4 linked regions of the Homo sapiens genome follow. The protein of the gene in region 4 purifies or fractionates together with the protein of the main gene of each other region. This does not show direct contact. Each region holds a gene or a part of one and is shown on either strand. Other genes may lie near its edges.

Region 1 (3,534 bases), on a different chromosome or scaffold from region 4:
GCCGTCTCAGCAAGCACGGTGCCTCTGCTCGGTTGTTTCCTCACACAGGTCAAGCTGAGCGGGAAAACCGGCCGCCGGGCAGACATCGCTTTGATTGAAGGCAGCCTTCTCGTGATGGCCGTCGGGGAGGCTGCCCTCAGGTGAGAGTCTGCCTTTCCAGTGCCCCTTGATGAGAGTTCCCTGAGGAACAGGCTCCTCTAAGTCAGCTTTGTGTTGGAATGGAGCATATGTAAAATGCACATATGATGCTGAGTGCTCTCATACTGGACGTACCCATTCACCAGCTCCCAGACTGAGGAGCTGAGCATTAAGAGACCCCAAGAGTCCCTGCCCGCCCCACTGCACTCCCTCGGGGCTCCCCTTACCCCCAGGTGGCCCTGCCTTGGTGTTTGCCCGTGGAATCTCTTTGCCTGGTTTTTCGGAGTGTGGCATAACTAGAATCAGTCGTTGTGGTCTCTGCTGCCTGCTGCGTTAGCTCAGTGTGCTGTCCGGGGCCATCTCGTGCTCTGTGTGGGGCTGCAATTCCTGTGTTCTCTTGGCGACCTCCTGCCATATACAAACCACCATCTATCGGCAACGGCTTTCTTTCATTAGAAACAGGACATAAAATGTCCCAAATGTAACAGCAGTGTTCGTTTTCATATCAGGAGTCTGATGAACTATGTCTTTTTCCTGACTTTTAATGTTTGCTCCACAGGTTCAAAAACCCCTCAGAGGGAAACGCCACTAACACAGGCCCTCCATGGGGCTTGCTTTCTTCTGTTGTAGATTCTGGGACATAGAACGAGGAGAGAATTATATACTGAGTCCAGATGAGAAGTTTGGCTTTGAGAAAGGAGAGAATATGAACTGTGTGTGTTACTGTAAAGTCAAAGGTGAGGCTTCCTGGCCTGGCACAAGAGAAACAGAACCAACCACAAGCATTGTGCGCCGGCTGCAAAATAATGGTAGTGAAACGTGGAGGCTACTCACACAATGGTAACTTGGTAACTCACAGCCATTCAAATAGTCGGGCAAGGGCAAGCAAGCAACGGCAGAGCTTTGTGATCCCACATGAAGGCCAGGGGGTTTGGTTAGAAGCATGACAACCTGCATCCCAGTACTTGGGGAGGCTGAGGAGGGAGGATCACTTGAGCCCAGGAGTTCAAGACCAGCCTGAGCTACATAGTGAGACCCCGTCTCCACAAAAAATACAAAAATTAGCCAGGTGTGATGGTGTACAGCGGTGGTCCCATCTACTCAGGAGGCTGAGGTGGGAGGATTGCTTGAGCCTGGGAGGTTGAGGCTGCAGTGACCTAAGATGGTGCCAGTGCACTCCAGTCTGTGTGACAGAGCGTGACCCCATCTAACAAGAAGCAAACCGATTCCTGCTCATTGATCTCTGTTCCCTCCTGAAATGCCACGGGAAGGACAGTGCAGGAAGTGTGTGTGTGTGTGTGTGTGTGCATGCATGTGTGTGTATGTGTGCATATGCACATCCAGAGCACAGGAGACTAGGAGGTGAGCCAGAGCCGCGTCTCTAGTGCCTGCTGAGTGCTGAGCATGGGGCAGCCCCGAGCCAGGCCAACTGGCCTCTAGGAAAGCTGGGAGAGCAGCATCCCCCACCACCCCCGCACTGGCACTGTGAGGTCAGGGCAGCAAGGACCTGGGCAGAAAGATGCAGCCAGGGATGAGGTGGAGAGGCACCAGACTGGGCGAGGGCTGATGCTTTGAAGAAGGGGGTTAGAGAACAGAGCTTGTTGCTGTTTTGTTCCCTTTTTTTAACTCTGTTCACATGCAGTTTGTTTCTACCTGTAGGTCTTCTGGCCGCTGGTACCGACAGAGGGCGAGTAGCCATGTGGAGGAAAGTACCAGACTTCCTGGGCAGCCCCGGGGCAGAGGGCAAGGACAGGTGGGCCCTTCAGACCCCTACCGAGCTCCAAGGAAACATCACGCAAATCCAGGTACAGCCTCCAAGGGTGTTCGGTGCACTCATTTTCTGCTGCATGAAAGTGGAGACCATGGCCGGGCGCGGTGGCTCACGCCTGTAATCCCAGCACTTTGGGAGGCCAAGGCGGGTGGATCATGAGGTCAGGAGATCGAGACCATCCTGGCTAACACGGTGAAACCCTGTCTCTACTAAAAAATACAAAAAATTAGCCGGGCGTGGTGGCGGGCGCCTGTAGCCTCAGCTACTCAGGAGGCTGCGGCAGGAGAATGTCGTGAACCCAGGAGCTGGAGCTTGCAGTGAGCCGAGATTGTGCCACTGCACTCCAGCCTGGGAGACAGAGTGAGACTCCGTCTCAAAAAAAAAAAAAAAAAAAAAAGAAAGTGGAGGCCATAAATGACTCTGAACCTATTTTTATCAGTTATTCAACTTAAGACTATGTGAAAATAACAATAATAAGACATTTTAAAAGACCTTTTGGATTTCAGAATTGCAGATAAGAGATTGTGGACCTGTATTAGTTATAATATGTATCTACCCACGAACCCATCCCTCCCTCTCCATCTCTCTCTATCTGTATGAAAAAGAGCTTTACTGAGATATAACTCATGATATATACAAAGTGGTTTTTGGTATATTCACAATTTTACAAACATCACTGCAGTGAATTCTAGAACAGTTTCAGCGCCACAAAAAATCTGTACCTTTTAGTGGTCGCTCTTATTTTCCCCTCTCCAGCCCTTGGCAGCCACTAATCTACCTCCTCTCTCTAAGGATTTGCCCATTCTGGATGTTTCATGGAAATGGAATCACACAACACCTGGTCTTTTGTGCCCGGCTGCTCCCACTGAGCTGAGGTTTCAAGGCCCCTCCAGATTGTAGCCTGTGTCAATGCTTTGCTCCTTTTCATGGCTGAATCACATTCTCTGCTGTGAACAGACCACGTTTTCTTTCTCCATTCATCAGTTGATGGACATTTGAATAATGCTGTTACGAACACTTGTGTACACGTTTTTGTGTGAGGATGTTTTAATTTCTCTGCAGCATTTGGTTCTTTCTTATGATTTCTCTCTGTTCCTGTTCTCTACCTGATGAGACACTGTCGTTGTAGCTTCCTTCACTTCACCAGGCTGGTTTCCTTCAGCTCCTTCACCACGTTTCCAGTGGCTGCTTTGAAGTCTTTGCTAAGTCCAACATCTGAGCCCTTTCAGAGCAGTTTCTGATGTCTGGGTTTTTTCCTATATGGAATTTATACTTTCCTATTTTGCATAGGTCTTTATTTATTTTTAGATAGATTTAGAAGTTTAATATAAAATTATGAAACCAACATTTCACATCAGCAGAAGAAAGCTGGATAATTTAATCCATTATGTAAACTTCCTGTCTGTTTATAAAAAACATAAACATCCCTATGTCACACTCAGAAAAGTGTGTCCCACTCAGAAAAACTCTAGAAAACGCTCTTCCCATCAGAACAGACATACCAGTGCTGCCTGTCCAATCACAACCCTTGAGCATCAGTATCTTGAAGTCTTTCTACACAGCATACTCTTTACCTTTATAAGACTTTTCTTATAATGTCTTATAAGATCATTTTTTAAGTCCGG
Region 2 (3,411 bases), on a different chromosome or scaffold from region 4:
GCTGGATTCTGTGTCCTCATTAGTCTAACGAGTCTACTCTGTTGCCCACATCACCTCCCATTAGGACCACTATGCCCTTTTAAAAAGTGGTCTTTATAAGATGTAAGTATTATGACACCCTTCTGCATACAACTATTCAATGGCTTTTGATTAGCCTTAGGATAAAAATCCCGTCCTGCCGCACCGACTTGTCCATCTTGTGGGTAGCCACTTGTTACTACCTCTCTCAGTGTCCTTCCCAGACATGCTGCTTCCACTCCTCTCCCCTCAGATCCCCGTTTTGCTTAGTTACTTCCTCCTCATCTTTCAGGTCTCAAAGTAGTTGTCCCTTCACTGAATGCACCGACAACCTGGCCCAGTAAAGTTACTTTGTCGTCTGCGCCCAAATAATCCTACCCTTCCATCTGCTACATTCCTTAAATCTGCAATCCCTTGTTCAAAGCCTGCAAAAGAGCATGAGCTCCTTGAAGCAAAGACAGTATTAGTCATTTTTAATGTAAAGTATAAAAGAAAAGGAAATACATGTGTTCATTCATCTCACAAATACGTTTTTTTATTGCCTGTTATATACCAAGCACTGCTTTAGGCCCATTTAGCAGTGAGTCTGCCCTTGCGTAGGTTATATTGTAGTGGAGGAGAGAGTTCATAAACAAACAAAGTATGTTAAGTGCTAAGTGCCTCAGAGAAAAATAAAGCCAGAGAAGCGGATAGAGAATGTTAGGCAGTAGGATGTGTGGCATTTTAGAGATAGGGTGGTCAAGGAAGATGTAAGGCGGTAACACCCTGGTGGAGGCAGGAAGATCTGGGGGAGAGTGTTCTAAGTAGAGGGAACCACAGAAGTAAAGATTGAGGCAGGAACGATCTGAGCTTGTTCATGAAATGGCAAGAAGGTTGGAATGGTTAGAAGAGCATGAGTCAGGTGGAAAATGAGGTCCCAGATGCAGATAAGTATGATCATGTCAGTGACGTAGAGCGTGGTAGGGGTTTGGATTTCTAAGTGGGATAGGAACCCACTGGAGGTTTGAACTCAAATCTAGATCATTGGAAAGTTCAGAAGCAAGCAGAATACCTTGTGCAACATAATCCAGCCATTGACATTCTCAAAAGATACATCCAAAGACCTTTACAGATTCCCTAAGTGTGACTACAGGACTTTCTCTACAAGTCCCTGTCTTTTCTCTAAATACATAATCATGTTTATGTATATATACTCAATCTACAAGCTAACTCCATTTTATACTTTGATATTTTTCTCTCACTTAATTGCCAACTTTTCAAAACAATGGAAGATTTTTCAAATTCCTTTCTTATAGTTTTAGTATGTGCAATCCTAGGTACAGCACAGCCCATTTGTAATGAGATAAGAGTGGTAGGTGGTAGTGAGCTACGCTTGCTCAGTAGTAGGCTGAAAAGATTCAAATTAATGTCTTATCAGAATTACAAATTACACATCTTTGTAGGTGTCCTGAAGAATAGTTGAAAACATTAAATCCATGGATGTCAAATGTCTTTATTTCGATATAGTTAAAATTAATATTTGCCATGGTGAATCTGAGATAGGAAAAATATTTTAAGATAATTTCAGACTTCTGGAAAAGTTCCAAGAATAGTCAAAGAATTTCCATTTTCTTAAACCAGATTCCAAATATCAACATTTTATCACATTTGCTTTATCATTTCTTTGCTAGCATACTTTATTCTCTAAATTATTTGAGACTAAGAACAAATGTGATGTTCCTTTACTCCTAAATGTCTTAATACGTATTTCCTAAAACATGGACATCCTCTTACATAACCACAGTGCAGCTATCAAAATCAGGAAGTTAATACTGAAGTTATTTTCCAATCTAAAGACCCTACTCAGATTTTGCCACTTATCTCAGTAGTGCTTTTTATCACAAAGAAAATCTTAGATCACATATTGCATATAGGACTGGGGGTTGTGGTTCACACCTGTAATCCCAGCACTTTGGTAGGCCAAGGTGGGCAGATCACTTTAGGCCAGGAGTTCGAGACCAGCCTGACCAACATGGTGAAACCCCATCTCTACTAAAAATACAAAAATTAGCTGGGCATGGTGCCGCACACCTGTAATCCCAGCTACTCAGGGGGGCCGAGGCACAAGAATCGCTTGAATCAGGTAGACGGAGGTTGCAGTGAGCCAAGATTGAGCCACTGGACTCCATCCTGGGTGAAGAGCAAGACTCCATCTCAACAACAACAAAAAGAGGAGGCAGATTTCTGTTCAATAAGTGACATGCATTTCCATCAGTGATAGCTGATCAGTTGTGTAACAGGCTATCTTTGAGGAAGTGAGCTCTCAATCATTGGAGCCAATGATAACAGCATAGCTATAAATGGGATTCCTTCCTTGTGAGAGATTAAATTTAAATTCTGTGATTCTGTACATTAACTAAAAACAGTGTGCTGCAAAATATTACCACTCTGAAAATGACGGTGAGGAAGAATGTTTTTCTAAGTCTGAGGTTCCCAAACTTCCTTGGATCACGATGCCCTTAGTGTCTTAGTAATTTTTTCACAGTATCGGAAGACAAAAAATTTATTATGTTACAGATTCCTTTATGTTATTTCCCTTGCAACTTTAAAATATTCTGAGGTGCTATCGTGCCCAGCATAGCACCAGACATTCAGCTCACAGTTTGAGAACTGTGGATATAAGCAAAGACCTTAAATTGCGTGTCCTCTGGCATCATGACTTAAGATTTGCACGCATGTAAACAAAGGCTGCAAAGAAACACAAAGTAAAAGCAGTACATTTGGCATATAGATGATTTTAAAATATTTAAAACCTTTTAAATCATGTTCTTCTCCTGCTTTATTCTGTGGGTGCTATCAAGGCCCTTGTTTTTCTTAGTTCCTTTCTACAGGAAAGAGCTGTACAAATAACATAAGGCTTTCAAACTCTGGGGCAGTAACAATTCAAGGAATCTTCTAAGGAACCTGGCGTTTTGCGATGGAAATGAACTGTGTTCTCTTTTAGGACCATAGAATTTTTTGGCTGATTACAGGAATTATGTTCATGGGAAGTGGCCTCATCTGGAGGCGCCTGCTTTCATTCCTTGGACGACAGCTAGAAGCTCCATTGCCTCCTATGGTATGAAGGATATGGTTCACGGCGGTATTGTGGAAGGGTTATGATCATGGGCCCTAAAGTCAGAGCGCCTGGGATTAAGTTGTCACAGGCACTATGGCCCTTGCGAGTTGCTTTCTCAAACTTCCTTCAGTTTCCCTATCTGTCAGTTAAGTCGGTATTACCTGCTTCATAGGGTTATGGGAAGAATTAAACAATATGTGTAAAGCACTTACTAGCACACTGCCTAACACAATAAGTTAGAAATATAATTTGTGTAGAACTCTGACAACATACATTTAAACAGATGTTAGTAATTC
Region 3 (3,534 bases), on a different chromosome or scaffold from region 4:
AGGGGACACCGAGTGCCCAAAGCAGACCCTGTGGCCACTGCTGGCCTCCAAAGGGGGTGGGGCCCAAGGGGCCAGCAGAGTCCTTCCTGGGCTACCCAGTGGGCCCGGGGCTGCACGGAGCCTCCCGGACAGCGCTGGGCCCTGGCTGCTGCCCGTTCCAGCCAAGATCCATGCACAGCTGCTGTCAGCCTTTTATTTGGATTCTCTGGAAACGGGGTATTGATGTACATTATAAATATTAATTCCATAACCATTCAAAATAAAACGATGTTATTGAAATCTTTGTCGTGCTTTGGGAAAACGTTAACTGAAATGATTAAATATCTTTCAAGTGGAATTGAGATCACCCGCCACTCCAGAAGGCAGCAACGTGAGAGTAAGGAACGTGCCCCTCCAGCCATTCACCCTGGCACCCACCGTGCCCAACAGCGTGACTCAGCTGGCACAGAGTTCATTTGGTCACAGAGATTAGAGATGCCTTCACCTAAAATTCTGAAGTTGGTGGGTTTTTTTTTTTTTTTTGAGATGTTGTTTCGCTCTTGTTGCCCAGGCTGGAGTGCAGTGGGGCAATCTTGGCTCACTGCAACCTCCGCCTCCCAGGTTCAAGTGATTCTCTTGCCTCAGCCTCCCAAGCAACTGGGATTACAGGCATGCACCACCACAGCCAGCTAATTTTTGTATTTTTAGTAGAGACGGGGTTTCACCATGTGGGCCAGGCTGGTCTCGATCTCCTGACCTCAGGTGATCTGCTGGCCTCAGCCTCCCAAAGTGCTGGGTTTACAGGTGTGAGCCACCATGCCCAGCCTAAATTCTGAAGTTTTTAAAGCATGTTTTCAGAACATAAAGTTTAATATAGTGATAAACTTCTAACAAAAAACTTTATGCAGAACTTTATCTTCTTTTTCTTGAGACAGGGTCTCACTCTCTCCCAGGCTGGAGTGTAGTGGTGTGATCACAGCTCACTGCAGCCTCAACCTCGTGGGCTCAGGTGATCCTCCTACCTCAGCCTTCCGAGTAGCTGGGAGCACAGGCACGCACCACCATGCCCGGCTAATGTTTTGGTACTTTTGGTAGAGATGGGGTTTCTTGGCTGGTCTCAAACTCCTGGGCTCAAACGACCCACCTGCCCCAGCCTCCCAACAGGTGTGAGCCACCATGCCTGGCCCAGAACGCCACCTTGAAGGGGCAGTCTTGGTACCTTAGAACCTAAGAAACCTATGACTGGAAACTACAAAGACAATGCCCGATGGCGGCCGCGGCCACTCACACTTCTGCAGCAGCTCCGCCCGCAGCGTGGCGCTCTTGGGTTTCCGCTTTAACTGAAAATGCTTCACCGGGGGAGTGAGGGGTCCCGCGAGGGTCGTCAGGGCGTTTTTGTTCAAGTACTGGCACTCCAGTGGCAGCATGGCAGACGCTTCACACTCACCCACTGCCGGTAAGAACCACATGAAGTTAGGGGCGCCCAGGCCGCAGACCTCCCGGCTGAGAGGAGCTGGCGGCTGCCCAGCCCCACACCCTCCTCAGTTAGGGTTAGGTCATGGGAGCTTCGGCTGTCCCCTGAGGTCCTCGAGACTGACTCCCCACGGCTCCAGCAGAACACCCAGGAGCATTTGCAGAACAGGAATGCCTGAGAGGCGGGCATGCCTTGAGAGGGCTGTAAACTGGAAACCTCTGGCACCGCGGACACCAAGAACCACAGGCGGACATAGATACAGTGATTCCTGGAGGGCTCCAGACACTTGTAGAACATGAAATGTTAACAGATCCCACCCCCACGTAAGAAGGACCCCCGATCTGTGGCTTCTCTCTTCCCGTCCCCGAGGGTAGCCAGGCTGGTGGTCTCTCCTGGAACCCTGGCCCTCATCCAAACTGCCCACATCCATTTCCTCAGCCTGTGTGCTCACCCACGGTTCAGATCCCAGAAACTGCCCCACGAGGGACAGGCGACCTCCCACCTGAACTGGCTACGTGCCCCACCTGGAGAAAAAGCACAGGCAGGCACATGAGAGTTCACCGGCCTCAGCCTTCCTGCCCGCGGGACACTCCTGAGACACGAACGGGTGGGGTGGGGTGGACCTGTCCAGACCACTGCTCCAGAGGCATCTGTGTGGTGTGTGTGACCTCACAGGTGGGGAGAGGTGCCACTTGCAGGGGGGTGGCCAGCAGGGCCCCTGCAGGAGTGTGCAGCCTCGATGTCTCCATCCCACAACCCTGTCTCTCTGGGTGCTGCCCTTGAAGGAGCTGGGGCACAACGTTTGGGCTCTGAGGAGCCAGTTCCAATTGTCCAAAGCAGGAGAGAAACTCAGAAAAGCACAAGCATCAAGCATCCCATCAAGACATGTTCTTCAAATCCATCTACAAATAGTTGTTTCTTTTAAGAGATACATTCTCACCCTGTTACCCAGGCTGGAGTGCAGTGGCGCGATCATGGCTCACTGCAGCCTTGGCCTCCCAGGCTCAAGTGATCCTCCTGACTCAGCCTCCCAAGTACCTGGGAGGACAGGCATGTGCCATCACGCCCACCTAATTTTTATTTTTTGTACAAATGGGTTCTTGCTATGTTTCCCAGGCTGGTCTCGAACTCCTGGGCTCAAGCAATCTGGCCATCTCAGCCTCCCAAAGTGCTGGGGTTACAGGAGTGAGCCACGGAGCCCAGCCTTGTGAATATTTTCTAAGTGACTTTCAGTTCACATTTAAACAACTAAATCGTTGATATTTTCAACATGCATTTCTGAGCATGTACTCTGGGCCAGGGAATGCTCTGGGCCCTAGAACCTAGGATCTACAGATACCACCTGAATGGGCAGAGCCCCTACCCTCACGGAGCCGACCAGAGAGAGACGGCGAGTGGCGTGACACAGCCTCCCACTGACACCGCAGCAGTGAGGATGGGGCCTGTGGGCTGTTTGGAGTTTGTTTTCAAAGATGGCAAAAGCCAGGCAGCAGCTTACGGGGGAGGATGGTGCATATACAGTTAATATTCTAGGGACCAGGACACACGGAAAAACGTAAAGGTCTAAAAATCAAATTCATTTCAGAAAAAAATTTTTCAAGAAAGATCCATTTCCCTCCACCCAACATGAATTAAAGCAGCACAACATACCCTTTTCTCTAAGTTCTCCCAAAATATCCTGAACGTTGGGATTCTGCTCCTCCAGCTCCAGGTTAAGCGAGCCTGTGTCCGGAAAGGACTTCAAGATGTCGGCGACCATGAGCACCCAGGGGTCCGAGTCGAGGCTGGCGAGCTGGATGATCTCCATTAGGGCGCCCTTCATCTGCAAAATAGGATGCTGCCGGCGCCACCATGCCCCTGCCCACTTCCAAGCCCACTCCCTGCTGAGCTTCCGGATGGGCACTGGGCAGTGGCCGGGCTCTCTGGCAGTTGCCCCCAACACTTCCTCCTGAGGGCTCCCCTTCCTCTGAGCCCCCCGCCTCACCCCAGGGCCACCTTGCTTCCCTGAGCAGCACAGCCTCTGCCAGGTTGCAAGGCCCCGGCATCCGGTGCCCTCCCAGCAGCCTCCCACCTCCCAGCAG
Region 4 (3,534 bases):
TACTCGTAAGAGGGCTGATAGGGATCCCCAGTGACGTAGGAGGTAAGCTGAGGGCCGTCAATTTCCATTTTGTAGTGACCCCTAAGAGGCTGTGACCTCCAGGCCCAATCTCTTATGGCAAAGGAAGAGGGTGGTCACATATACACAAAGAAGAGATTCTGGGATATTTCTTGAATGCAAAACCAAAAAATGTGTATTCAAATCTGACTCTCCTTTAATGCCTAGAACTTCCATGCCCTGACAGATCAGAGATAAGTTGACAAATCTTAGCCAACTCCCCTCTTGGCTAAATAGTTCCAAATGAAGACTAAAGAAAGCTTCTAAGGGAATCACTACATTTGCTCTATGATTTGTGCTGTCTTTAAGGAGGCAGTTTAACCAAGTATTTCCCTGCTTTTGTTTTAAGCTTCTATTATTTACCTCTAACCCATCCACAGCACTTTTCACTCATTTGTGGATGAAACAGCCCTCTAAATACTAAACCGGAACAAGTTTATAACAATAACATTAGAGCTATGTTCAGGAGAAGTGTAGTCAGGTGAGATATTAAGTCACCCTTTTCCTTTACTTAGCCATAATTTCACAGTTGAAATATCTGGATAGTGTCTATGAAACAAAGTGTGTAACAGAATTCTGATTTTTATTTTAAATTATAAAGAGGGGTTAGAACTGAATGCCTAGAAAGTGTTGTGTTAATTTTTCTCTTCCCAGCTTCCTCCCGCTACACTGTCCCCAAATTATACCTTATCTCGAAGGAATTATTCAATCTTTGGTCTCTTAACTGAGGCAGTCAATGAGGCAGTCAAGTCAGAAAAATCAGGCTGAGGAGGCCAATAATCCCATGTGATGGTAATTAACATTGAGTGGCCTCTTCTAATGTGCTAGAAGACAGTAAGAATCTGCTCATTGGGCCTTCATCCTTAATGAGGCAGAGGAGGGGTTTTGATAGGGGGGAAATGATTTGTTGGAAGCAAAAGGAATGGGACGCATCTTGAAATGTCATTTTCAGAGCACCTGGGCATCCTGGGTGAGGTAAGAAATTAGGTTCTTTACAAGTCCTTAGCCTCACTTCATCAAGATTGAGCTCTGGAGGTTTCATAGATGAGGACCTACACAGTCAACCAGGGTTAAATGACTTGCCCAAGGTCACACAGCGAGTTAGAGAGAGTACCAAAATTAGAATTCATAGTCTTTGTATTTCTAGTTCATTGGCTGGTGCACTAGAACGAAAAAATATTCGGCATAATAAACCCCCAGAGCCATTCTTTTTTGACTTATAAATGTTGAGCAGATAACAGGCTCAGAATCTAAAAAGAATCTGTTTGAAACTTAAAATTTAAACACATAGCCCACAGCTATAGTACTAGTCAGCAGAATGAAATGTTCTCTGTGATCATACCTTCCGGCCAGCATTAATTAAAAAGAAAAGAAGGAAATGGTGTGGGCTTAGAAATATATTACATGTACATACAAGGCTACTAGCTATTATCACTCATCTAGTTTATTTGATATTCAATATTTCATTCAAAAATATTATTTGCACATTGCACTGTATTAGACAGTGGGGCTGTAAGAGTGAATCAGACAGATATTTGGCCCCTCTATGTGTAAAAGTAGAGTCTTACAGTAGTCATCAAATAAGCAACCCTCTCCCAAATACAGTCAGGTTCCAATCCTCTAGGACGTGCCTCTTACCCCATTATTTGTGGGCCATTCTTCCCACTCAAATCCACAAAAAGGGAAACAAAAGCACAGGTGCTTCAGACTTCCCTGACGTTTGACATTTCTTGTGTGATAGCTAAGAACAATGGATGCATATTGTATCTCTGCAGGGAACTCATGTAGACAGTAGTCCCCCCTTATCTGTGGTTTTGCTTTCCCAGGGCTCGGTTATCTGCTGTACAGTACAATGAAATATTTTGAAAGAGAGAGAGAAAGAGAGACCACATTCACATAATTTTTATTACAATATATTGTTATAATTGCTCTATTTTGCTGTGAGCTGTTGTTAGTCTCTTACTGTGCCTAACTTATAAACTGAACTTTATCATATGTACGTACATACAGGAAAAAACATTAGGGTTTGGTACTAGCAGCGGTTTCAGGCATTAACTGGGGGTCTTAAAACATATCCCCCACCATGGGCCAGGTGTGGTGACTCACGCCTGTAATCCCAGCACTTTGGGAGGCCAAGGCGGGCAAATCACCAGGTCAGGAGTTCGAGACCAGCCTGGCCAACATGGTGAAACTCCCATCTCTACTCAAAATACAAAAATTAGTCGGGCATGGTGGCGCACACCTGTAGTCCCAGCTACTCAGGAGGCTGAGGCAGGAGAATAGCTTGAACCTGGGAGGTGGAGGTTGCAGTGAGCCAAAATTGTGCCATTGCACTCCAGCCTGGGCGATAGAATGAAACTTCATCTCAAAAAAAAACAAAACAAAACAAAACAAAAAAACACATCCCCCGAGGATAGCGGGGAACCACTGAATTTTTACTAAATGCCTAAGACATCCTTCTTTAATTTGTGTAACATATCACCCCCTTCTCTTTCTAGTCCCTCCTGAAAGAGTACTTTTCTCAGATCCCTTTTCTTGACTACTATTAAGACCCTAGAAAGTAGCGAGCAAGTGATACAAGGAATCTGCATACTCAAAGGCCACATCACCTAGTTTCCACCTTTACTTTGTCCAGGGTAGCCCGCTGTGCTCTCAGTTCAGTTTAGATGCTTTCTTATGTGGACATATCCTAACATCTGTAGATAACTCTCCAGGCCTGAGGGGCTGTCAAAAATTCGGGATTTTCAAAATTCTGGTGTTTCTTGAAGCAAATTAGTCCAATAACATAGATTCATCCATCATGGTTAATTAATTTTTTCTGGCCTTTATTTCTAATATCTCGCTGGATTTCCACTGATATAAAGAAAGCTTAAGATAGACAGACCCTGAAATTTACTGTGCTCCTGAAATTCCATTTTGTATCTAGGAAAACCTTCATTCCTCTAAGGTTTCAATTTAAGAAAGTTCTCCTCAGGGGACTGTAAAGGGACATATATAGAGCTATGACAGCAAGTACCAGGGCACTGCTCCGCTGGCAACACGAAAATGAAAGTAATAGCCCATAAACCTATAGACAGAAACCAGCACTATGTCAAGGAGACAAGGACTACAGGGCTCTCGACTGAAGCAGGAGAGGGCAATTAAGACTTCTTACTCCTCGTCCTGAAGGGTCTCCTCCTCCTCTTGGATCTGTAACTGGTTCTTCACGGGAGCTAGGTTCTCGGTCTTGGCGTTGTAGTTCCGAAAGCAGACATTGAGCTTCTCATCAAATTCATTTACGAGGTCCTCCATGGACTTGAAGCTGATTATTTCGGAAGAAAAATTCTCAAGCTCGGAGAGGGAGGGGTCCTCGAGATGGTGGGGAGATGAACCATAGAAACACTGGGGCTTCTCCTCCGGGTCCTCCGAGCAGGAGGGTCGAAGGTCCTCAAACTCTTCATCCAGACTCACCAGTGGGGCCTCCATTCTTGCTCAGCA

The links.
Region 1: the proteins of FEZ1 (region 4) and IFT140 purify together in Homo sapiens (affinity purification with mass spectrometry; 2 studies listed by BioGRID and IntAct, with this or other methods). This does not show direct contact.
Region 2: the proteins of FEZ1 (region 4) and MRS2 purify together in Homo sapiens (co-immunoprecipitation; 3 studies listed by BioGRID and IntAct, with this or other methods). This does not show direct contact.
Region 3: the proteins of FEZ1 (region 4) and NELFA purify together in Homo sapiens (affinity purification with mass spectrometry; 2 studies listed by BioGRID and IntAct, with this or other methods). This does not show direct contact.

What each region holds. Positions count from the first base shown.
Region 1 is NC_000016.10:1,584,539-1,588,072, reverse strand, and holds part of IFT140 (intraflagellar transport protein 140 homolog), read left to right. Parts: intron 1-48; coding exon 49-140; intron 141-768; coding exon 769-875; intron 876-887; exon of another isoform or gene 888-944; coding exon of another isoform or gene 945-978; intron 979-1,797; coding exon 1,798-1,943; intron 1,944-3,534. UniProt on the Homo sapiens protein: Component of the IFT complex A (IFT-A), a complex required for retrograde ciliary transport and entry into cilia of G protein-coupled receptors (GPCRs).
Region 2 is NC_000006.12:24,419,936-24,423,346, forward strand, and holds part of MRS2 (magnesium transporter MRS2 homolog, mitochondrial isoform b precursor), read left to right. Parts: intron 1-3,001; coding exon 3,002-3,115; coding exon of another isoform or gene 3,116-3,121; exon of another isoform or gene 3,122-3,411. UniProt on the Homo sapiens protein: Magnesium transporter that mediates the influx of magnesium into the mitochondrial matrix and regulates magnesium metabolism. Also permeable to calcium, sodium and potassium ions.
Region 3 is NC_000004.12:1,988,441-1,991,974, forward strand, and holds part of NELFA (negative elongation factor A), read right to left. Parts: intron 3,276-3,534; coding exon 3,104-3,275; intron 1,430-3,103; coding exon 1,268-1,429; intron 1-1,267. UniProt on the Homo sapiens protein: Essential component of the NELF complex, a complex that negatively regulates the elongation of transcription by RNA polymerase II.
Region 4 is NC_000011.10:125,486,256-125,489,789, forward strand, and holds part of FEZ1 (fasciculation and elongation protein zeta-1), read right to left. Parts: 5' UTR 3,523-3,534; coding exon 3,212-3,522; coding exon of another isoform or gene 3,208-3,211; exon of another isoform or gene 1,944-3,207; intron 1-1,943. UniProt on the Homo sapiens protein: May be involved in axonal outgrowth as component of the network of molecules that regulate cellular morphology and axon guidance machinery.